3 separate regions of the Homo sapiens genome follow, and regions 1 and 3 are each linked to region 2. The links come from fine-mapping of genetic effects on gene expression. A gene starts in region 2. Each other region holds a variant in brackets. All regions are shown on one strand. Distances are between the middles of the regions. Region 1 overlaps ATP6V0A1 (ATPase H+ transporting V0 subunit a1). Region 2 holds the start of ATP6V0A1 (ATPase H+ transporting V0 subunit a1). Region 3 overlaps ATP6V0A1 (ATPase H+ transporting V0 subunit a1).

Evidence for each region.
Region 1: its variant is fine-mapped to the expression of ATP6V0A1 in whole blood (INTERVAL, PIP above 0.99).
Region 3: its variant is fine-mapped to the expression of ATP6V0A1 in whole blood (TOPMed, PIP above 0.99).

What each region holds. Positions count from the first base shown.
Region 1 is chr17:42,497,537-42,505,536 of GRCh38, reverse strand. It overlaps ATP6V0A1 (ATPase H+ transporting V0 subunit a1), which reads right to left. Exons shown (of 22, transcript NM_001130021.3): 15 at 6,495-6,613; 16 at 4,614-4,830; 17 at 4,233-4,340. Among named protein-coding and RNA genes, the nearest start is that of MIR548AT, 6.8 kb to the right of the region's middle. The variant T/C (reference allele first, on the strand shown) is at 3,182.
Region 2 is chr17:42,454,411-42,462,700 of GRCh38, reverse strand. ATP6V0A1 (ATPase H+ transporting V0 subunit a1) reads right to left here and starts at 3,823. Exons shown (of 22, transcript NM_001130021.3): 1 at 3,738-3,823; 2 at 1,690-1,853. The coding sequence starts at 1,806. RefSeq lists a silencer at 3,754-3,963 and an enhancer at 4,114-4,203.
Region 3 is chr17:42,484,825-42,492,824 of GRCh38, reverse strand. It overlaps ATP6V0A1 (ATPase H+ transporting V0 subunit a1), which reads right to left. Exons shown (of 22, transcript NM_001130021.3): 10 at 5,458-5,670; 11 at 2,188-2,338. Among named protein-coding and RNA genes, the nearest start is that of MIR548AT, 5.9 kb to the left of the region's middle. The variant CATT/T (reference allele first, on the strand shown) is at 3,329.

The DNA.
Region 1 (8,000 bases), 43 kb before region 2:
GAAACCCCGTCTCTCCTAAAAATCCAAAAATTAGTCCAGGCACAGTGGCTCACACCTGTAATCCCAGCACTTTGGGAGCCTGAGGCAGGTGGATCACGAGGTCAGGAGTTCAAGACCAGCCTGGCCAACATGGTGAGACCCTGTCTCTACTAAAAATACAAAAATTAGCCGGGGGAGGTGGTGGGTGCCTGTAATCCCAGCTACTCAGGAAGCTGAGGCAGGAGAATTGCTTGAACTGGGGAGGCGGAGGTTGTAGTGAGCCAAGATCGTGCCACTGCACTCTAGCCTGGGCGACAGGGCAAGACTCTATCTCAAAAACAAAACAAAACAAAAATTAGCCAGGCGTAGTGGTGCATGCCCATAATCCTAGCTACTCATGAGGCTGAGGCAGGAGAATTGCTTGAACCTGGGAGGTGGAGGTTGTAGTGAGCTGAGATCGTGCCACTGCACTACAGCTGGGTGACAGATCAAGACTTCATCTCAGAAAAAAAAAAAAAAAAGTGATTATCACTATGAAACAATCTTCAAGATACACTAACTTTTAAAAAACGTAATAGATCGAGAGGCAGAACAGTGCCACAGTTTAAAACACAATTCCTCATGTGTCTTTTTCTAGATGCATAGAGCACACACACACCTATCAATAGAAGACAGGCAGATATCTGTCAGAGGCAAGGCCCCCACCTGTTAACAATGCCCCCTGAAGAGGAGGACTGTAGTGGGGGCAGGTGGTTTTCTTCTTAGTTAGCACTATATGCATTCTCTAGCCAAGTGCACCTATTGCTTTATTTTTTTAATGTCAGTAGGGGATTGTCAGGACCATGAAATTATGGGCCACTTTTATTTCTTCTTCCACTTATTTGTTTTAATACCCTAAGAAACAAATTCAAAGTCTACCAGGTGACTGTGATGTGCAGTCAGACTTGTGGGCCACCAGAGCCTGGACACCTCCAGGTCATGCACATATTCCACCTGGCAACCCTCAGAAGGTGGACTGAAAATGCAACGAAGGGCACAGGAGGGGACTCCTGCATAACCTCGGCTGGGTTATAAGATATAGGAGGAAGGCTTCAAGGTTCAAGGCTCCCAAAGTAGAAGGCCATTTCTGAAGCTTTCTCCAACTAGCAGATAAACTGAGGAGCAGACAGGTTAAATCTCCCAGCCAGACACTAATAATGATCTCTTCAGAACACAGGAATGAGAGTTACAGGAAGGGGGATGAGAGACACATGTCAGCAGAAAAAAGAAAAGAAAAATTAAACTGTGATATATCACTCACAGACAACCAAGGGGACAAAGAACAGAACAAAACCAGATCACTGTTCATATCCTCAGCCCTCTGGGGTCAAAAATCCAGAGACTTTCTTGTAGACTGATCATCCTGATGCCTTCAGGCTGCTCTCCAGGAACAGATGTTTGGCTAAAGAACCAGTGGGGTAAGAAGACCCTATGAATGTGCAGGTTTCCAAACGGGGAACTTTTAACTTAGAATTTATCACAGAAGAAGTCGCAAGACTTAAATGCATTAAGATCTTGTCAGAAGCACATCTTATATATGCTAAGACTAGCAGAAAAAAGAGTATGTGTTAAGGACATTGACAATAGGTAGTATGTGTTCTAAAGGTTTGTTAAATGTCTCACAGGGAAGTCCCTACTTGAAAATGTATTTTAAGCAGCAAGATTAAAATTTTTTCTGACTCAAAATGTCAGCCCTTTTAGACTAGTTCCAGAAGGATGACTTAGACTAGTTCCAGAAGGATGACCATAAGAAATTTTCCAAGTTTAAAATCATCAGAAACACTTAATGAAGGAAATGGTTATCCATCTAAATCTTTCATTTTATTTAAAGAAGTATATGCTTCGAGCACATAGAAGTAATGCGTAATCACTACTGGTGAGACTTTTACAATCTTATAGATTCATTCATAACTTAGAATATATTAGGCTAATATATTTGTGCATTGTAAGATTTTGTTTAAAAGATGTTTTTAAGGACAAATATTCAAAGTGCTGTTACTGAATCTTGAATTAGTATCAGAAGAGGGAAGGATCAAGACAGATCACTTTGGTTATGACACCAGATGACAGTACACACGACACATCGGAGAGCAGAGGTCTCACTGGAACAGCTGAGGACATGTGAGGTCTTCTGAGTTTCTCACAAAAAACTAAACATGTATAAACTTTCACTTTCAAAAAGAAGGTAAGTTACTACTAAAAAAGATCAAATGTCCAAGCATCACTCTAAAGTAGAACTCTAAAGTGCAGGGAAATCAATTCAAGAATCACAGAGATATTCTCGCTTCCATGCTGAAAAATCATCCAATACATGGTCACAAAATACAGACATGAAAGTGGGTGAGTCCAAGAGCTGTCATCTTGGATTAAGATGATGGGACTCAGTGAGGGTACAACAAGCCACTTTGTTGCCATGGACATGCCTGTACTTACATTTTTGAATAGAAACTTAGTAGACCAATGCTAAAGATGATGCCAGAATCTATTCTTAAGAGGTGGAACTTCTGTCATCATCTCAGTGAGTAACAAGGACATATTTCCCAAAAGTACACATGTCCCATGCTCTCAATTTAATTAAAAAGAATTCTGCTGCACTGTTTGCCACCTCTTTAAATGAAATGTGATGGTTTGTTGGTTTTAATTCACTCACTGTTGCAGCCGCTGCTGCCTCTAGTCCCTGTTGGCTCGGGTTTGGGCTGACTGGGGCCTCCACAGGTTGCCCTTCCTGATAGTGAATGGAAGAAAAGAAGAAGGGGAAAGAAAACAAAAGAGGGAGGGAGTGAAGTGGGGAGACAAATGGAGGGTACATGGAAGGATGAAGATGGTCAGAAAAGGGAGAAGGAGGGTCTTGTAACTCAGCTGCTCTCCACGGGAGTCATCATCTAACAGCCGTTTAAGAGTCATGCAACAAGATCGTTTGGGTTTTCCCAGGCAGTGTAAAGTAAGTGCTATTGGATACCCAGAAATTATGCATGATACTGAACATCTCGCAAATTTAACTCTGTGTGTGTGTGTGTGTGTGCGCGCGCAGAATTCATATACACACAGACATTAAGTAAACGTATATACATATGCTGCTTTTTAAAAAGAAAAAAAATCAACGTGCTTTAAACCAAACCTTTTTCCCAGATGTTTTGGTCAGTGAAAGTTATCACAGTCTCAT[T/C]TGAAAGGAAAATGTCTCAATGTCAGTCCTGTGGTTGCCCAGGCAAACCGCATGAGTGAGTTCACCCATCTGCAGCTCTTGCAGCTTTGCTTGGCTTTGGCTGATGCTACATCTAGACAGGCATAGGCCTACATTTTCCTGAGCGCAGCGTGAGCAAAAGCATGACCAGGAAAGGTAAAAATTTGTGACTTTTCTCTCCTCTAGCTACTCAAAGCTGAATCCAGATATCTTGAGCAGCAGACATGTTTCTCTGACTTGGCAGGCCCAGTGCTCGTGCTGGGACATAACACAAATGCGTTTTGTTTGTTTGGTTTTTTGTTTTTGAGACAGAGTCTCACTCTGTCCCCATGCTGGAGTACAGTGGCACAATCTTGGCTGACTGCAACCTCCGCCTCTCAGATTCAAGCGATCCTTCCACCTCAGCCTCCCAAGTAGCTGGGACTACAGGCACGCGCCAACACGCTTGGCTAATTTTTGTATTTTTAGTAAAGATGGGGTTTCACCATGTTGGCCAGGCTGGTCTCAAACTCCTGACCTCAAGTGATCCACCCACCTCGGCCTCCCAAAGTGCTAAAGTGCTGGGATTACAGCAGTGAGGCACTGCGCCCGGCCACAAATGCGTTTTAATAGTATACAGATTTGTGGCCGGGCATGGTGGCTCACGCTTGTAATCCCAGCACTTTGGGAGGCCAAGGTGGACGGATCATGAGGTTAGGAGTTCGAAACCAGCCTGGCTAACATGGTGAAACCCCGTCTCTACTAAAAATACAAGAATTAGCCAGGTGTGGTGGCGTACACCTATAATCCCAGTGACACAGGAGGCTGAGGCAAAAGAATTGCTTGAACCTGGGAGGTGGAGGTTGCAGTGAGCCAAGATCGTACCACTGCACCCCAGCCTGGGGGACAGAGCGAGACTCCGTCTCAAAAAAAGAAAAAGAAAAAGAAAAAGAATATATAGATTTGTGCACAATTAATTATATCCACTGGGGAATTGCCTTGATCTTGAACAAAACAAAAGTCTAGTAACTTTTAGCAATAGAAATACACCTACCAAATGCTTTCTCCTCAAATACTGACGGCGAAGGACCAATGGTTTAAACAGCAGCATCCAAGGTACACACAGTAGTGCAACCACTACCAGGAAACACTGAATTCCTTTCTGCAGAGTAAGAAGAAGGACAAGGTACATCATATAAAAGTCTACCGATCACATACGCAGTTTCCAAATATGGCACAAATTTCCCCCAACAGTACTTTCTTACTAATCTATGAATAACACTATCCAATTTCTCAAAATAATTATCACATTTTGTGGCAAAGCCCTAGAATTGTCCCATAGAAGGGCAGTTATAAATTTTTTAGGGTCAGAGAAACATCTGGCTTCCTGATCAAGTATAATCATCTCAGACAGTCTGCCTCTGGGCTGACGTACCTGTCCAGAATACAACATTGAATAACCAGACTCTGGGTAGGAAAAGAGGAACATGTTTATGAAATGGATCAGAAGGCTTGGTGCATTCTCAGAGGTATGAGCATCATAGGCCGTCCACTTGTAAAAAATAAGGATAACCAAATAGCCAAACAAAGAGGTCATGAAGATTATTTCAGGAATAAATCCAAAGTAGATATTCAGGGGCTTCTTGAAATAGCTAAAAAGGAGAGAGAAAAAAATGTTAAGGGTAAATGGGCCTAGGGCCACTCCTACACTGAATGGAGTATTCACTAGATTTTTCTACTTAATACCCCCTCAATTCTGTCTTTATCACTTTAAGCAGCAGCAACCAGAAGCTGGAGACAACAGAGACAATGCAGGATTAACTATCACGGTCAAACTTTTGAACCTTGGTTTTGTTTTGCTGTTGCTTTTTCTTTTTTGAGACAGGGTCTCACTCTGCTACCCAGCCTGGAGTACAGTGGTGCAATATTGGCTCACCGCAGTCTTAACCTCCCTGGGCTTAGGCAATCCTCTTACCTCAGCCTCTCGAGTAGCTGGGACTACAGGCATGCGCCACCACACCCAGCTAATTTTTACATTTTTTTGTAGAGATGGGGTTTTGCCATGTTGCCCAGACTGGTCTTGAACTCCTGACATCAGGTGATCTGCCCGCCTTGGCCTCCCAAAGTGCAGGATGACAGATGTGAGCCATTGTGCCAGGCCTTAAACTTTTGAACCTTGAACGGCTCCAATACCATCCCCACCATTCTCTCCATGAGAAAGAGAATGGAAAAATCTAGTACATTTTGAGACCACAGTTCATAACTTTTTTTTTTTTTTTTTTTTGTAGAGATGGGGTCTTTTGCCGTGTTACCCAGGCTTGTCTTGAACTCTTGGGCTCAAGTGATCCGCCTGCCTTGGCCTCCCAAAGTGCTGGCATTACAGGTGTGAGCCCCCACACCCAGTCCACAGCTAATAATTTTATGTGAGTTGCACATCAAGGAAAAAAAGAGACCTCACTTATTTTGATGAAAATTGCTCAAGTTTTTTTCAAGGATCTTTACTGGAACAGTAAATTGTTAAAGGACTAATATTAAGTCTAATTTAAGACCATCAACATTTTTTTTTTTTTTGAGATGGAGTCTTGCTCTGTCACCCCGACTGGAGTGCAGTGGTGTTATCTTGGTTTACTGCAACCTCTGCCTCCTGGGTTCAAGCAATTCTCCTGCCTCAGCCACCAGAGTAGCTGGGATTACAGGTGCACGCCACCACACCCGGCTAATTTTTTGTATTTTTAGTAGAGACGGAGTTTCACCATGTGGGCCAGGCTGGTCTTGAACTCCTGACCTCAAGTGATCTGCCCGCCTCATCTTCCCAAAGTGCTGGATTACAAGTGTAAGCCACTGCACCCGGCCAGACCATGAAATTTATTTATTTATTTATTTTTTTTGAGGCAGAGTCTCACTCTGTCGCTCAGGCTGGAGTGCAGTGGTGCCATCTTGTCTCACTGCGACCTCTGCCTCCCAGGTTCAAGCAATTCTCCTGCCTCAGCCTCCCGAATAGCTGGGAATATAGGCGCGTGCCACTACACCTGGCTGATTTTTGTATTTTTAGTAGAGACGGGGTTTCATCGTGTTGGCCAGGCTGGTTTCGAACTCCTGACCTCAGGTGATCCACCGGCCTTGGCCTCCCAAAGTACTGGGATTACAGGCATGATCCACCGCGCCTGGCCACACCATTAAATTTTTAGAAAAGCACTTCTATAATGTAGAATGAGGTTCTGAGTTATTAATCCCTCCCCAAAGATGTCATGATTTCTTTACACAAAAGCATTCTCTAAACTATGCACATTCTTATGACAGAAATGGAACAACTCACATATGGTTGAACAGACTCAGGCTGACTCCAAACAGCATATGGATGATACCAAGGATAACAGACATCTTCATCTTAAAGGAGTTCAAGAACGTCAGTTTATTGGTAGCAATGTTCCAAATCTGTCATAACCCGAGAAAACAAATAGGTATTATAAAGAATTCTCAAAGGGAAAAATATTCCTCTGTTTAAAAAACAATTTTTATTTATTTATTTATTTAGAGACGAGTCTCGCTCTGTCACCCAGGCTGGAGTGCAGTGGCGTGATCTCAGCTCACTGCAAGCTCTGCCTTCCGGGTTCACGCCATTCTCCTGCCTCAGCCTCCCAAGTAGCTGGGACTACAGGTGCCTGCCACCACGCCCAGCTATTTTTTTGTATTTTTAGTAGAGACAGGGTTTCACCGTGTTAGCCAGGATGGTCTCGATTCATGACCTCGTGATTCGCCCGCCTCAGCCTCCCAAAGTGCTGGGATTACAGGCGTGAGCCACCGCGCCCGGTCGACAATTTTTATTTATTAATCAATATTATTTATTATGGAAAATTCTAAACAGATACTTAAGCAGACAGGATGGTACAACAAACTCCCAGGCACCTATCACTCTGCTTCGACAAAATTTTTTTTTTTAATCTTGCTTTTGAGGAGAATGCTTCAAAAATTAACATCACCTTATAGTCATGAAAAAAGATTACTGCCACTCACTCATCTCCACATTACTAAAAAGTCCAGATATCATGTCATTTTACCTGTAAATATTTCAGTGTGGATGTCTAAAAGGAAAAGACTTATTTATTTATTTATTTATTTATTGAGATGGAATTTCGCTCTTTTTGCCCAGGATGGAGTGCAGTGTTCATGATCTCGCTGACTGCAACTTCCACCTCCTGCCTTGCCTCAGCCTCCCAGGTAGCTGGGATTACAGGCACAGGCCACGATGCCCAGCTAATTTTGTATTTTTAGTAGAGATGGGGTTTCACCATGTTGGCCAGGCTGGTCTCAAACTCCTGACCTCAGGTCTGGCCTGAGGCTTGCCTCGGCCTCCCAAACTGCTTGGATTACAGGCTTGAGTCACTGCGCCCGGCCAGTAAGGCTTTTTTTTTTTTTCTTTTTTTTTTGAGATGAACTCTCGCTCTGTCACCCAGGCTGGAGTGCAGTGGTGAAATCTCGGCCTATTGCAAGGTGGGGTTTTCACCATGTTAGCCAGGAAGGTCTCGATCTCTTGACCTCATGATCCGCCCGCCTTGGCCTCCCAAATTGCTGGGATTACAGGCGTGAGCCACCGCGCCCGGCCAGGACTTATTTTTAAAACATGACCACAATATTGTCATCACACGTAAATGCATTAACAATGATTTCTTTTTTTTTTTTTTCTTTTAGATGGAGTCTTACTCTGTCGCCCAGGCTGGAGTGCAGTGGCATGATCTCGGCTCGCTACAACCTCTGCCTCCTGGGTTCAAGCAATTCTCTGCCTCAACTTCCCGAGTAGCTGGAATTACAGGTGCTCGCCACC
Region 2 (8,290 bases):
TGCCTGTAATCCCAGCACTTTGGGAGGCCGAGGCGGGTGGATCACCAGAGGTCAGAAGTTCGAGACCAGCCTGGCCAATGTGGTGAAACCCCGTCTCTACTAAAAATACAAAAATTAGCTGGGCATGGTGGTGCATGCCTTTAGTCCCAGCTACTCAGGAGGCTGAGGCAGGAGAATTGCTTGAACCTGGGAGGCGGAGGCTGCAATGAGCTGAGATCACACCACTGCACTCCAGCCTGGGCGACAGAGTGGACTCTGTCTCAAAAAGAAAAGCAACAACAACAACAACAAAAACCACACATAGGAGAAATAAAAGCAAAACAAATCACTGTACGGGTTACCTCTGGGGTGGAAGAAAGGACTGGCATGGAGCAAAGAGAAACAGAGGTTTCAATTATACACGGAATGTTTCCCTCTTAAGCAGATAGTAGAAACATAGGTGGTCATTATAATACTCCCCCCACCTCTTTTTTTTTTTTTGGTTTTGAGACAGTGTCATGCTCTGTCACCCAGGCTGGAGTGCAGTGGCATAATCACAGCTCACTACAGCCTCGACCTCCTGGGCTTCAGCGATCCTCCCACCTTAGCTTCCCAAGCAGCTGGGACCACAGCCATGTGCCACCACATCCGGCATTTTTTTTTTTTTTTTTTTTTTTGGCAGAGACGGGATCTCCCTATGTTGCCCAGACTGGTCTCCAACTCCTGGGCTCAAGCGATCCTCCTGCCTTGGCCTCTCAAAGTACTGGCATTTCAGGTGTGAGCCATTGCACCTGGCCCCTATCTCTTTTTTTTGTATGACTGAAGTACAGCATAAGTAAAAGAAAAGAAGGCTGAATAGAGCCAATAGATGTTAAGCAGAGGGACAACATAGGACCAGATGAAGAACTGCAAATTAAGGATGACAAGTTTTTTGTTGTTGTTGTTGTTGTTTGAGACGGAGTCTTGCTCTGTCGCCCAGGCTGCGTGCAATCACACAATCTCGGCTCACTGCAACCTCCGCCTCCCAGGTTCAGGCGATTCTCCTGCCTCGGCCTCCCGAGTGGCTGGGATTACAGGCCTGCGCCACCATGCTAATTTTTTTTGTATTTTTAGTAGAGTCGGGGTTTCACCATGTTGGCCAGACTGATCTCAAACTCCTGACCTCCCGATCCGCCCGCCTCAGCCTCCCAAAGTGTTAGGATTATAGGCGTGAGCCACTGTACCCAGGCTAGATTGTCCATATTCTTTAGATAGCTTCTCCAAGTGCCCAGTATAATATTCCAAAATAATGAATATTCAGTATATGCTTATTTATATACTATATATCTGTAGCTGGATACCTCAAATTTTATTTTTTTTAAAATGTCCTACTATATGGAAAAACTGCAATATATTTTTTTAAATACCTTGCTATTTAGCAAGTGAAAGCCTTGATCAGGTTAGTTTGGTAACCTCTCCCTGCATCCCAAACAATTACCTGGAGAATGCTTAGGACTGTTCTGAAAGTGGGAGCTAGCAAAAGCATGTAAAGATTGGCACAAAACATTCTCACCTTTAGAAAGACAACTCAAAATGTGCATTCTGCCAATAGGAAGTCAGTGCTATAATGTTATTTTTGCAAATAAAAAACAAAACATTCATCATAAGGCATCTGACCACGATAGCAATAGAGTTCAGCAGTAATCAAGTCGCAGCCCCACAACTACTTACGTCACGAAACTGAACCTTTCCAAGTTCTCCTAATTCACTGACACAACAATAAGCAGCCTCTGACTGTAGAAAAAGCTGGGCCAGTGTCATTTCTTCACTCCGGAAAAGCTCCCCCATGGTGGCAGAAGGTACCAGTCTAGTGAGTACCTGGATTTCTCTCCAACCTGAAGCAAAGAGAAAATGACATAACTTTGGAAATTACCACGAGGGCTAAGAGCAAATGACACCCCACTACGGCTCTTGCATTTACATTTCTAACACCCCATGAGGACAGGTCAACAACTGTTTTTGACACCCTGTCTAGAAAGATGGAAAGGAGAAATTGCAAAGGCAGTTCCTGAATTCTGTCCCACAGAGTGTCAGATGAAAAGTCACTTCCATTCCAGTCAACATCAGGATCAAATGACAATTATTTTGGGCAACTCAACTGATAAGAATGTATCCAGATTAAAGACAGGAACTGGGAACCTCAAACAACTCTTTAAATACCCAGGACACAATATTGAGGCAGTGAGTTTCACACTGCTCAATCTGTTTTTGCTAGTGCAGGAAACAAACAGAAGAGGCCTTCAATACCCTCTCATAAAGATGTCTGCCTTGTAACTATCCTTCTCCCTTCTACTGACAATGCGCATTTCTAAAAGCCCAAAGTTCTGGCACTATCCTAAAGCTATGGCTACACTAAAGGGTTTAATCTTCCAGATTCCTCAGAAAACAATATTTCCCCACTTAGGAATTCAAACAAATAACCGTCATCTGGAAAAAGCAACCAGTTTGCATATTAAGCTCAATTTCAAATCAAGCATGACAGGAACACACTGATAATGACAAAGCAGTTTTATCAAGCCACAGAGAATAAGCCTTCCACCTCTGCAGCTTTCTGTTTCTCAACCCTACCTTCAAGATTAATTACATTCTTCCATCTGTCAAATCTCATGAGCCAATAAAGGTTTCGTTTTAGTGCTGTCTTACTGTTGCCGGGTATGAGACAACTGGCGCTATCAGTGGTCCTGAAACTGCAATTATTTATTCTCGATCAGCTAATGTAAGGCACAGCCTGTCCAGTATCCAAACTCAGAAAAATGCACAGTATTTTTAGTGTCATAAGGGCATCTATACTGAGTACTGATAGATGAGTCTGACATCAAAGGAAGATTTACTCTTCTGGAAGGCTGGGAGACATTTTGAGAAATCTGAACGAACAAACCTTTGTGCATGTGATGTTCAAGACAGTAACACAAGCTCAGACATAAGCAAGGACTTCTCAAGAGAATATGCAGGCTGACTTTAAGATTCTGTACATCTGAATCATCCAAATCAGCTGTTACCGGCACCACCCTTAAACAAAGAGAGATTCTACAACCTCTAAACACATAAAATTAGGCCTGGTCAGCATAGTTCAGGAGCTGTGGATAATGATAAGCCTCCAACGAGTCGCCTCCGTCCTCCTGCTCTTTAATGATTATAGGTCTCCCAAGAATATCTCTATAGCAATGGAGGCTAACAGAAAACTAATTAGGCCAAAGTAGTTCTGGACGATCACAAAACAAAATATGAAGAAACAGCAATTCTGCAAAAGATGAGTCCAACTACAGCGCCCCCGCGCCCTGCCTAGAAGAATCTCACTCCTGTCATCCGGTCCTCGCCTCCTCCCACGGTATTCACCTGCTTCATTTCCTGTCTACCCAATGAGCAGGAATTCTCTGGACTCAGGCTCATCTACCTTGAGATGGGAAAAAAGGAGAGGAAAACCCCCAAACTGAGAAACCCTTTAAGAAGCCCCCTAAATTCTTCTGCCTATCCAATAACCTCCGGTTCCTCCGCCTACCCCTTAAAGCAGGGAAGAGATGCGGGGCTTCCAAAGGGCAGTGAGCCTCCGGTTCCTCAGGGCAGAGGAGGGGTGCCCAAGGAGGGGGCGAACCCCCATTTTATCTCGAAGACGTCAGATCCCCGCTAATTCCTCTGACAATCAAGGGGGCTCTTAGAAGGATTTCCTACGTCCATCGAGGGCCGCTCCCTGTTGCGCTAAACCTACAGCCCCCACTCACCTCCAAACTCCGCCACAGCAACCGCCACAGAAACCACCGCAGCCAAACCCGCACCCTCCGCGGCTCCAGGAGCAGCGCTTCGACGTGCTTGCGTCCGTAAAGCCCCGCCCCTGCGCCGCCGCCGGCCCCCGCCCCCGCAATGACCTCATTGCAGTTGGCCAATGGGGCGCAGCCTCGCCCGGGCTGCAGCAGTGCGGAGTCACGGGGGTCGCAGGCGAGACCCAGCGTGCTGACGCCATGTTGGCCCCTGTGCTGTATCTCCACGCTGGGGAGGGTTAGCGGGTGGGGCTGGAGGTGCAGGTGCTCGAGGCCTTAAGTTCCTGAGCCTCCCTGAATCCTTTTTCTTACCCCTTATACTGGGGTAGGTTGTCTTTTCTCTTTCTTTTTTTTTTTTTGAAGTCTCATTCTGTTGCTCAAGCAGGAGTGCAGTGGCGTGATCTCGGCCCACTGCAACCTCCACCTCCCGGGTTCAAGCGATTCTCCTGCCTCAGCCTCCCAAGTAGCTGGGACTACAGGCACGCACCACCATGCCCGGCTAATTTTTGTATTTTTTTTTTTTTTAAGTAGAGACGGGGTTTCACTATGTTGGCCAGGCTGAGTCTCGAATTCTGACCTCGTGATCCACCCGCCTCGGCCTCCCAAAGTGTTGGGATTACAAGCGTGAGCCACCACGCCCGGCCTTTTTTTTTTTTTTTTTTTTTTTTTTTTAGATGGTCTGTTTCCCAGGCGGGAATGCAGTGGCGCGTTCTCGGCTCACTGCAGCCTCCGCCTCCCGGGTTCAGGGGATTCTCCTGCCTCAGCCTCCCTAGTAGCTGAGATTACAGGCACGCACCACGCCACCCGGCTATTTTTGTATTTTTTGTAGAGATGGGGTTTCGCCATGTTGCCCAGACTGGTCCTGGCCTCCACCCGCCTCGGCCTCCCAAAGTGCTGGGATTACAGGTGTGAGCCACCGCGCCCGGCCCTCTCTTTATTTTCATATCCAAAGAATTAATTCACACATACGCACCCAAATAATTAATGTCTTCTCTCTTTATTTTCATATCCAAAGAATTCACACACACACTCAAATAATTAATACGCAGACACATATACCACCCTTTCTCTTTTCCCTTATTTTACAGATGAGAACATTTGAGCCCCAGACTGGGGAGCGGCTAGCTTTAGATCCTGTAGTAGAGTCTTTAACGGGGTCTCATTTGCATAAGTATGGAAAACCTCTCTTTAAATGGTACATGGTTCATGCCTTCCAGCAACTTCCCCGGGTCTATTTTTCTCTGTTTAACAGGAAAAACCTCATCAGACCATATGTTGTGAAAGTACATTTCAGTCTTGTTTGGTAGATTCATGTGGGCTCAATTGACCACTTAGGAGTTTTCAATTCCTCAAATTTATTTTAAAAACATTTTTTATGGCTTGTACTCAACTTGTAAATTAAATATTGAAAAACATTTTTTAAACGCAAAAGTGATGTCTATTATTTTTTAAATGCCATTATCAAATATTGATATTGATTCCCTTTTCTTGCCCTTTTAAAGAAGAGTAGGGATCTCAAGTCGTTTGTGATAACCAGAATTGTATCAGGAAAAACTCAGAAAACCGGTTATTCTGTCTTCCTGGGTGGTGGAACCCTGTTGAAATTCAAGTGTAATGAGGGAGATATTCCAGATAAAAACTTGTTGCTGATAATTTTGTCAACCTGACAAAAACATCATCAAACCTGCTTTACCAGCCTAAACAAAATAAGGGGACAAAAATGGACGTTTTATTTGAATTTATTGTCTCATATTGTGAGTGAAGATATAACCTGACTTCAATACAACCTTCTTAAGACACAGAGTCTTGGAGAGACCCATACCCTCCTTCTCCCTGCTCCCTAGCTCTCAACCCTTCTGGCAAGACAGATCGGGACCCACATTTAAAAGCCTGCCAAGTTAGAGAAAACTGTTACACAATATCATTTCCTTCCTCTGAGACTTAAAAAAAAATTAACCTCAGTCAGCTGCTTGCTAACCACAAATTTTTCATACTCCACTTTTAAGACAGCCTTTCCTGTGGACTTACTTCAATTCCCTTGAACTCTTTTCACGGCTTCTTTGAAAGAATATTGTTTCAGAACTCCTTTTCTGTTTGCTTCCATCTCCTGCCATCAATCTTTCCTCAGTGTTCTATTTATTTTCCCTCCATGCTGTCTTCCTTGATGGTCTTGAGTGTTGTCAAGCTTAAACGTTTATGTGTAGGACTCTTATCTGTTTTTCCACCTGACTTCCTTCTTCAAGACTCAGAAATGGAATTTCATACTGCCTGCTTGATAGTGCCTTTTAGGCAGCAGATGCTTGCTGAGGGCCTACTGTGTGCCAGAGAGGGGTACTAGGTGCTGGGGATAGAAAATGAAACAGACATGCTTCTTATCCTTGGAGAGCTCATGGTTCAGTGAGAAAGAAACTTCCCAAATGGCAAGAGAGAGAGGAGTGCAGTGATTAATACTTACTATGTGCCAGGCACTTTTCTACATGCTTGGTAAATACAAACTCATTTAATCCTCACAACAACATTAGGAGGCAGTTACTATTATTATCCCCATATAACAGATGATATGGTAAAACTGAGGCATATGTCCAATAAGATCAAATTTAAAATGCTGTTGACCACACCTACAGCCCTAGAAGACATGAGCAATTCCATATGAGGCTTGGCCAGTGACACAGTTCCGAGTATCTAAACCGAGCTATTCCCTAGCATTTGTGAAAATGGCTAAAAAACAATTAAAGCCAGGTGTGGTGGCTCACGCCTGTAATCCCAGCACTTTGGAAGGCTGAGGCGGGTGGATTACCTGAGGTCGGGAGTTTGAGACCAGCCTGGCCAACATGGTGAAAACTCATCTCTACTAAAAATACAAAAAATTAGCTGGGGATGGTGGTGCATGCCTATAATCCCAGCTACTCAGGAGGCTAAGGCAGGAGAACCACTTGAACCCAGGAGGCGGTGGTTGCAGTGGCCAAGATCGCGCCATTGCCCTCCAACCTGGGCAATAAGAGCAAAACTGAGTCTGAAAAAAAAAAAAACAGTTATAAAGATTAGTTCTTCACTACCACAAAAAGAATAGAACAGAGGTAGGGATCTAACTGATAGAGTCTCAAAATGTTACAAGAATTGTCACTGTAGTGAAATTATTAAATGTGGTTTTTTATCTTTAATTTTTAGTTTGAATGAATGCGTGTCAATTGTCCAAATTTCCACCAGTGAAGAATCAGCTAGCTCATCTTAGCTTATCCCACTTAGATTCCTAGATGGGGCCTAGAGGAGAGTTTTAACGTTAAGCCCGGTGTTTTGAAATACGTATCTGCTCCAGTGTCTTCTCCACAGGCTTCCAGTATTCGTTTCCCTAAGGCTGCCATACAAATAACCACAACCTGGGTAGCATTTAAAACAACAGAAATCAGGTCAGCCGAGGTGGCTCACGCCTGTAATCCTAGCACTTTGGGAGACCGAGGCCAGCCTGTCACCTGAGGTCAGGAGTTCGAGACTAGCCTGGCCAACATGGGGAAACCCCATCTCTACTAAAAATACAAAAATTAGCAAGACATGGTGGTGGGCGCCTGTAGTCTCAGCTACTTGGGAGGCTGAGGCAGGAGAATCACTTGAACCCAGGGGGCAGAGGCTACAGTGAGCCAAGTTTGCGCCACCTCACTCCAGCTTGGATGAAAAAGCAAAACTGTGTCTCAAAAAAACAAAAAACAACAGAAATCGGCCATGCACGGTGGCTCACTCCTGTTATCCCAGCACTTTGGGAGGCCAAGGCAGAAGGATGGCTTGAGCCCAGGAGTTTGAGACCAGCCTGGACAACACAGCAAGACCCACGTCTGTAAAAAAAAAAAAAAAAAAAAATTAGCTGGGCATGGTGGCACGTGCCTGTAGACCCAGCTACTCAGGAGGCTGAAGTGGGAGGATGGCTTGAGCCTGAGCCAGGGAGGTTGATGCTGCTGCAGGGAGCCGTGATTGAGCCACTGCATTTCAGCCTGGGTGACACAGTGAGGCCCTGTCTCAAAAAAACAAAAACACCGAAATTTATTCTCTCACAGCGGAGGCTAGAAGTCTGAAATTAAGGTGTCTGCAGAGCATGGTATCTCCAAAGGCTCTGGGAAAGAATCCTTTCTTCCCTCTTCCTGGCTTCTGGTGGTTGCCAGAAATCCTTGGTGTTCCTTGGCTTATAGATGCATCATTTCAATTGTTGCCTCCATCGTCACATGGTATTCTTTCTTCTATATGTCTTTTTTTTTTTATTTGAGATAGAGTCTTGCTCTGTCGCCCAGACGAGTGCAGTGGCGCAATCTCAGCTCACTGCAACCTCCACCTCCCAGGTTCAAGCAATTCTCCTGCCTCAGCCTCCTGAGTAGCTGGGATTACGGGTGTGCACCGCCACGCCCAGCTAATTTTTGTATTTTCAGTAGAGACGGGGGTTCGCCATACTGCTCAGGCTAGTCTCGAACTCCTGGCCTCAAGTGATCCACCCGCCTCAGCCTCCCAAAGTGCTGGGATTACAGGAGTGAGCC
Region 3 (8,000 bases), 30 kb before region 2:
AGGCTGGTCTCGAACTCCTGACCTTAAGTGATCCTTCCACCTTGTCCCCACAAAGTGCTGGGATTACAGGCATGAACCACCACGCCCAGCCGATGAACTTTTTTTTTTTTTTTTTTTTGAGACAGAGTTTCACTCTTTTTGCCCAGGCTGGAGTGCAATAATGCAATATCGGCTCACGGCAACCTCCGTCTCCCCGGTTCAAGTGATTCTCCTGCCTCAGCCTCCCGAGTCGCTGAGATTACAGGCAAGAGCCACCATGCCTGGCTGATTTTGTATTTTTAGTAGAGACGGGGTTTCTCCATGTTGGTCAGGCTGGTCTCGAACTCCTGACCTCAGGTGATCCACCTGCCTCGGCCTCCCAAAGTGCTGGGATTACAGGCGTGAGCCACCACACCTGGCCCAGCCGATGAACTCTTAAAGGAACGCTACCTGACAGTAAACCTGCCCCTTACATTAAATGGGCATCTTTTTGTTGTTGCCCAAGCTGGAGTGCAGTGGCATGATGTCGGTTCACTGCAACCTTTGCCTCCTGGGTTCAAGTGATTCTCAGGCCTCAGCCTCCCGAGTAGCTGGGACTACAGGTGCATGCCACCAAATCCGGCTAATTTTTGTATTTTTAGTAGAGGCAGGGTTTCACCATGTTGGCCAGGCTGGTCTCAAACTCCTGACCTCATGTGATCCACATGCCTCAGCCTCCCAAAGTGCTGGGATTACAGGCGTGAGCCACCATGCCCTGCCAGAATGAGCACCTCTTCACAGGGAGTACACAAGATCTGAGGTGTCAACATGTTTATTTATTTTTTAATAGAGATGGGGTCTCACTATGTTGCCCAGGCTGATCTTGAAATCCTGGGCTTAAGCAATCCTCCTACCTCGGCCTCTAAAAGTGCTAGGATTGGCTGGGCGCAGTGGCTCACGCCACCCAGCACTTTGTAATCCCAGCACTTTGGGAGGCCAAGGCGGGTGGATCATGAGGTCAGGAGATCGAGACCATCCTGGCTAACACAGTGAAACCCTGTCTCTACTAAAAATACAAAAAAATGGCCGGGCGCAGTGGCTCACGTCTGTAATCCCAGCACTTGGGGAGGCAGAGGCAGGCAGATCACCTGAAGTCAGGAGTTAGAGATCAGCCTGGGCAACATGGTGAAACCCCGTCTCGACTAAAAATACAAAATTAGCCGGGCGTGATGGCACATGCCTATAATCCCAGCTACTCGGGAGGCTGAGGCAGGAGAATCGCTTGAACCTGGGAGGCAGAGGATGTGGTGAGCTGAGATCGTGCCATTGCACTCCAGCCTGGGCAACGAGAGTAAATCTCTGTCTCACCTAAAAAAAATAAAAAAAAAATTAGCCGGGCATGGTGGCGGGTGCCTGTAGTCCCAGCTATTCGGGAGGCTGAGGCAGAAGAATGGCGTGAACCTGGGAGGCAGAGCTTGCGGTGAGCCAAGATCACGCCACTGCACTCCAGCATGGGTGACACAGCGAGACTCCGTCTCAAAAAAAATTAAAAATAAAATTAAATTAAAAAAACAGTGCTAGGATTAACATCTTTAATTTTAATTCAGTTATTCAACAGCATTTAAAGTGAGGCATTAGAAGAAACAATGAACAAAAAGGCCAGGCATAGTGGGTCACACCTGTAATCCCAGCACTTTGGGAGGCTGAAGCAGGAGGCTTCCTTGAGCCCAGGAGTCCAAGACTAGCTTGGGCAACATAACAAGACCCCGTCTCTAAAAAAAATTAAAAATTATCAGCCTGGGCAACATAGCAAAACCCATCTCTAAAAAAATTTTAAAAATTAGCCAGGCATGGTGACACATGCCTGTAGTCCCAGCTACTCCAGAGGTTCAGGCGGGAGAATCACTTGAGCCCACGAGGTTGAGGCTGCTGTAAGCCGTGATTTCACCATTGCACTACAGCCTAGGCAACAGAATGAGACCCAGTCAAAAAAAAATCATAAAATAAAAAATTAGCCAGGTGTGGTGCTGTGCGCCTGTGGTCCTAGCTATACAGGAGACTGAGTTGGGAGGATCTCTTGAGGCCAGGAGTTTGAGGCTGCAGTGAACTACAGTCGTGCTGCTGCACTCCAGCCTGGGTGACAGAGGGAGACTCTGTCTCAAAACAAACCAAACCAACCAAACAAACAAAAAAAACTCTAGAGGAAAAAGATAACAAGCTTTTTTTTACCTGGATTTATCTCTCGGTAAGTTCCAATTCCATAAGCATCTACTATGTTCTGAAAGCCATAGGTAAACTTGTTGGTTTTGTTATAGGTTGGGGGAGTCTGGTTTGTCTGCATCCTGTTCAAAATGGAAGGTACAGTGGAACCACTGTGTTCCTGAAAAACATTAGCACATTTATCAAACTTAGGTTATCCTCCTAATTGTGGTAGTGGTTACACAGGTGTACATTTCTTGAAACTCATCAAATGGTACACATAAAATGTATGTATTTTCTTTCATGTAAATTATATCTCAATAAAACTAATAAACCTAAAAATAAAACTAGATTATCTTTCCCAGCTTTTGGGAAAACTGGGAAAAGGTATAACATTTATAATGGAAGATTTCTATTAGATCCTCTGAAATACATCCTTAATGTGAAAAAAATTTAACTTTAAAATATGTCACCAAAGAAAATGTGGAACTGCCTCCATATCTGCCTTTTTATGAAAGTTGTTCTCCCCCTTTCATGGAGAAAGCAAAGTATGTTCTCTGGCTCTCCTTCTTCACTACCTTCTCTTAACTTCCTGATCCCTTGCAGTCTGGCTGAGCATGCTTAGGCAAAGTGACTGGCTCCTGACCAAAGAGCTTCTCTCCCCCATGCACGCCCCTGACATTGGAGATCTTTGGTGAAAATCCTTCTTCCTTAGGAGTTCTCCTCCTGCTCGCTGACCATTGCTTTTCTATCTTTGCTGGTTATTTCTGCTCTGCCTATCTCATAGCATTGCAAGACCCCAACCTTTTTTTTCTCTCTATGACCTCCCTCTTGGAGGTCTCATTCCCTTCCATTCTCATGACTCCCATTTCCTTAGCTTTGTTCCCTTGTCTGCTTGACATTTCCACATAGACCTCAATGTGCCCGGAACTGAACTTACCATCTCTCCCCAATCAATAAGCTTCTCTGGCTGAACATTTACTTCCCTCATTGGAACCCTAATTCTCCTGGCCAGTCAGCTTTGATGCCTCAAAAAGATGTTTAAATCTTTCTCCTTGTATTTCTCCTGCACCTTGCTAGGAACCAGGTAGCCCTATTGATTTTTCCTGCAGAACATCTCACAATTCATCATTTTTTTTCCCATTGTCAAGTCCTACCTGGGGATCCTTAT[CATT/T]TACTACTCTATGTCTACAATAACCTCCTAACTGAACCCCTACCTACAGAATCTCTTCACTCCTCAATCCAACCTAGATACTATCAGCAGATTACTCTTTTAAAACTGCTTTGAGCCAGGAGAAGTGGCTCATGCCTGTAATCCCTGCACTTTGGGAGGCTGAGGCGGGTGGATCACCTGAGGTCAGGAGTTCGACACCAGCTTGGTCAACGTGATGAAACCCCGTCTCCACTAAAAATACAAAAAATTAGCTGGGTGTGGTGGCGCACACCTGTAATCCCAGCTACTCAGGAGGCTGAGGCAGGAGAATCACTTGAAGCAGGGAGGTGGAGGGTGGAGGTTGCAGTGAGCCGAGATCATGCCACTGCACTCCAGCCTGGGCAACAAGAGCAAAACTCCATCTCAAAAAAAAAAAAACCAAAAAACAAAAAAACTGCTTTGATCCACCAGGCGTGGTGACCCACTTTTTTTTTTTTTTTGAGACAGAGTCTCACTCTGCTGTCCAGGCTGGAGTGCAGTGGCATGATCTCAGCTCACTGCAACCTCTGCCTCCTGGGTTCAAGTGGTTCTCCTGCCTCAGCCTCCTGAGTAGCTGGGATCACAGGCACCCACCACCATACCTGGCTAACTTTTTTGTATTTTTAGTAGAGACGGGGTTTTGTCATGTTGGCCAGGCTGGTCTCAAACTCCTGACCTCAAGTGATGACCCGCCTCAACCTCCCAAAGTGCTGGATTACAAGAGTGAGTCACCACGCCTGGCCCCAACACTTTGGAAGGCCAAGGAAGGCAGATCACTCGAGCCCAGGAATTTGAGATCAGCCTGGGCAACATGGCAAAACCCTGTCTCTACAAAAAATTAGCCACGCATGATGGTGGGCACCTGTAGTCCCAGCTACCGGGAGTCTGAAGTGGGAGGATTGCTTAAGCCCAGGAGTTGGAAGCTGAAGTGAGCTGAGATGGCACCACTGCACTCCAGCCTGGGTAACAGAGCAAGATCTTGTCTCAAACACAAAATTAAAAATGTAAAAAACCACCCAAACTGCTTTGATCATGTTCCTTTACCCCTAAAGAACTTCCAATGTCTCTCAACTTCCTCTGGAATAAAATTTAAATCTTCTAAGCTATTATTTAAGAACCTTTCACAATTAAGTTCCAAACTACCTGATGCAGACAGGTACTTCTCTTCAGCTAACCCACTGTAAATCCTGTTCTTGTCCAAACATACATGGTCTAACCATACTTCCTGCCTTTGTTTTCTTCTCTTCATTCAGCAGTCTTACCAACAACTTATCATTCTTCAAAGACCTGATCAAATGCCACCTGCTTAAAGCTTTTTCCAACTCCATAGTTGGAACTCTCCTAATAAACTGTAAGATACTCGAGGGCATGTTTTATACATCTCTGTACTCCTCCAGGCACTTACAGCACTTCTGTGGACAGAGTAGTTGTTCTAATTAACTACTAAACAGAAACAGTCATATACAGAGAGGGCATCAGGAAACTGATGCCCTGGCCATGAACAACCCTGAAGAATCATGGGCATATGACCAAATTATTTCAGCTCTCTGAACTGCAGTCTCCACATATGCAAAATAAAGATATGCTATGCTACGCTATGATATACATATTATATGCCAGGCTATGTATGAAATGTGCTGTCAAGTTAAAAGACAAATAAATATATTGAAGAACTCTGAAGGTGAAATGCCATAAAAATGACATTAATGTTACTATTTATTTATTTTTTATTATTATTTTTTTTTTTTGAGACAGAGTCTCGCTCTGTTGCCCAGGCTGGAATGCAGTGGCGCAATCTCAGCTCACTGCAAGCTCCGCCTCCCAGGTTCACTTGATTCTTCTGCCTCAGTCTCCAGAGTAGCTGGGACTACAGGCGCCTGCCAACACGCCCGGCTAATTTTTTGTATTTTTTAGTAGAGACGGGGTTTCACCGTGTTAGCCAGGATGGTCTCGATCTCTTGACCTCATGATCTGCCCGCCTCGGCCTCCCAAAGTTCTGGGATTACAGGCATGAGCCACCGCGCCCGGCCAAAAATGACATTAATGTTACTATTGATGGGAACCTCTCTTCCGGGCCACGAGCTGCATTGTTAGCTTTGGGGACTCACCGTGCCCCTTCTGAGTGCAAACTGGATGGAGTCAAGGTCGGTGACAGGGCACCAGACCTCTGCAATCAAGCATTTCTGAGTCACATCTATGTTGCACAGGTTCAGGGTGTGATAGATGGCCTTCATCTTCCGCACTTTGATGAACCAGACACGGATGTTCTTAGCAGCTGCCTGCAGAACCCTCTGGCGGTGATCCTCCGTTTGATTCAGAACCTTTGGGGAGAAAAGGAACAAGCGAGGGATCCTTTTAACACCAGTTTTAGATCTCAGGGTATGAATGGCAAAGAGGCATAGCTTTCTGAAAAGAGTTGCCAGGGAATTGTCTTTTTCTTCCTCTGGCTAGAATGGTTTCTTTTTTCCAAATTACAAGAAATTAGAGTTCTAGTTACTAACATTCACTTTTATTTAGCTTCAACCTAAAAAGAAACCTGAGAAAATAGTTTAGCTTTTCTATATATGTTCAATCTTACCACCAATCCAAGGCACAACAAATGTAGGTCACTGCCTTTAACTTGGCTTATTAAAGAGCAACGACTTTCTATGTGGGGAATGTAACTCAGTAGGCATCACAAGCCCAGGAGCTGACAAATTAACAAATCCACACAGAATCCTTTGCACATGGGCCAGCATCAGGAGAGGGTGGAAAGAGGCAGTGCTGAATACCACCACCAGCCTACACTGGGAACATGGGCCAGGAGACGCCATGGGATCAGGAGCACCTGTGATCTTTACAGGGGGCTTGGACTGCCACATACCACTGCCATCATGAGGGCAGCTAAGGTGTTACCTTTATGTCAGGCTTCTCATCAGAGGAAAAAATGGTTCAGTGTTGATCCTTTTGAAATCAGTACAGATTTCCCTCAGAGGAATTACAGTGCCAAGACTAAGGTGGGAGGAAGGTACAGGAACATTTTACATTCCACTGGCTTAATACCAAATATTTAATTTTTTTTTTTTGAGATGGAGTCTCGCTCTGTGGCCCAGGCTGGAGTGCAGTGGCGTGGTCTCAGCTCACCACAACCTCCACCTCCCGGGTTCAAACGATTCTCCCGCCTCAGCCTCCTGAGTAGCTGGGATTACAGGCGCGCGCCACCATGCACGGCTAATTTTTATATTTTTAGTAGAGACGGGGTTTCACCATGTTGGTCAGGCTGGTCTCGAACTCCTGACATCGTGATCCACCCACCTCGGCCTCCCAAAGTGTTGGGATTACAGGCATGAGCCAACATGTCCAGCCCATATTTAAGTTTTTAATAGCAGGTGTGGCTAAGCCTGTTGCTTCCAACTGGAAGAAATTAGGCAAGCAACCCAAAGCACAAGTCTCCATCATAGACAATTCTTCAAGTTAGTTCAGAACAAAGCAGTAACTACTCCCTGAAAAATTGTCTTGGGCAGAGGAAGGTGACTTCCTTTGTTTTGTTTTGCTTTGTTTTTAAAAGCAAAGCCATGTCATGCTAGGAAACACATCACTTGAAGATAGCTACTTTCTTTCCTTCTGGTTGTGGACTATTTCACAATTACTATTACTCACTCCTGTAATCCCAGCACTTTGGGAGGCCAAGGCAGGAGGATTGTTTGAGGTCAAGAGTTCCAGACCAGTTTGGGCAACATAGTGAGACCCTATCTCTACAAAAACATACCAAAAAATAATTAGCTGGGCATGGCAGCAGGCACCTGTAGTCCCAGCTACTTGGGAGGCTGAGACAGATTGTTTGAGCCTAGTCGGTCAAGGCTGCAGTGAGCCAAGATTGTGCCACTGCATTCCAGCCTGGGTGACAGAGTGAGATCTGTCTTTAAAACAAAACAAAACAAAACAAAACAAAACAAACAAACAAAACACAAAAAACCCTTCTTCTAGAAGGATGCTAAAGAAACTAGCAAGCAATGTTCTATTTGCCGTTCTCTTTCCTCATCCCATTCCTTGGTATTCAATCCCTTTTTAAACTTTCAGTTCCTACAGCTAGATTTTTAAAAAATCAAATTCTGGTCAGTTATAATGACTACCACATATGCTCTTTAAATCTACCCATAGGTCTGGAAGGAGATTAAGACAGCCTTAGAACCCAGAATATACTAATATAGCCTATCACTCACCAGCAGTTCTAAAACTCTCTCTCTCTGCTTAAACAGGTTAAGTGTATCTCAAAGGAGCCAGCAATAGGTCAGGTTGGTGGGTCATATATGATGGAGGTCACTGAGAGTTAAAATGGAAGTTACAGGCTGGGCACGGTGGCTCATACCTGTAATCCCAGGACTTTGGGAGGCCGAGGCAGGCAGATCATCTGAGGTCAGGAGTTCAAGACCAGCCTGGCCAACATGGCAAAACCCCATCTCTACTAAAAATACAAAAATTAGCCAGGTATGGTGGCAGGCATCTGTAATCACAGCTACTCAGGAGGCTGAGGCAGGAGAATTGCTTGAATCTGTGAGGCAGAGGTTGCAGTGAGCCGAGATCGCGCCACTGCACTCTAGCCTGAGAGACAGAGCAAGACTCTGTCTCAAAAAAAAAAAAAAAGAAAAGAAAAGAAAAAAGAAATGGAAGT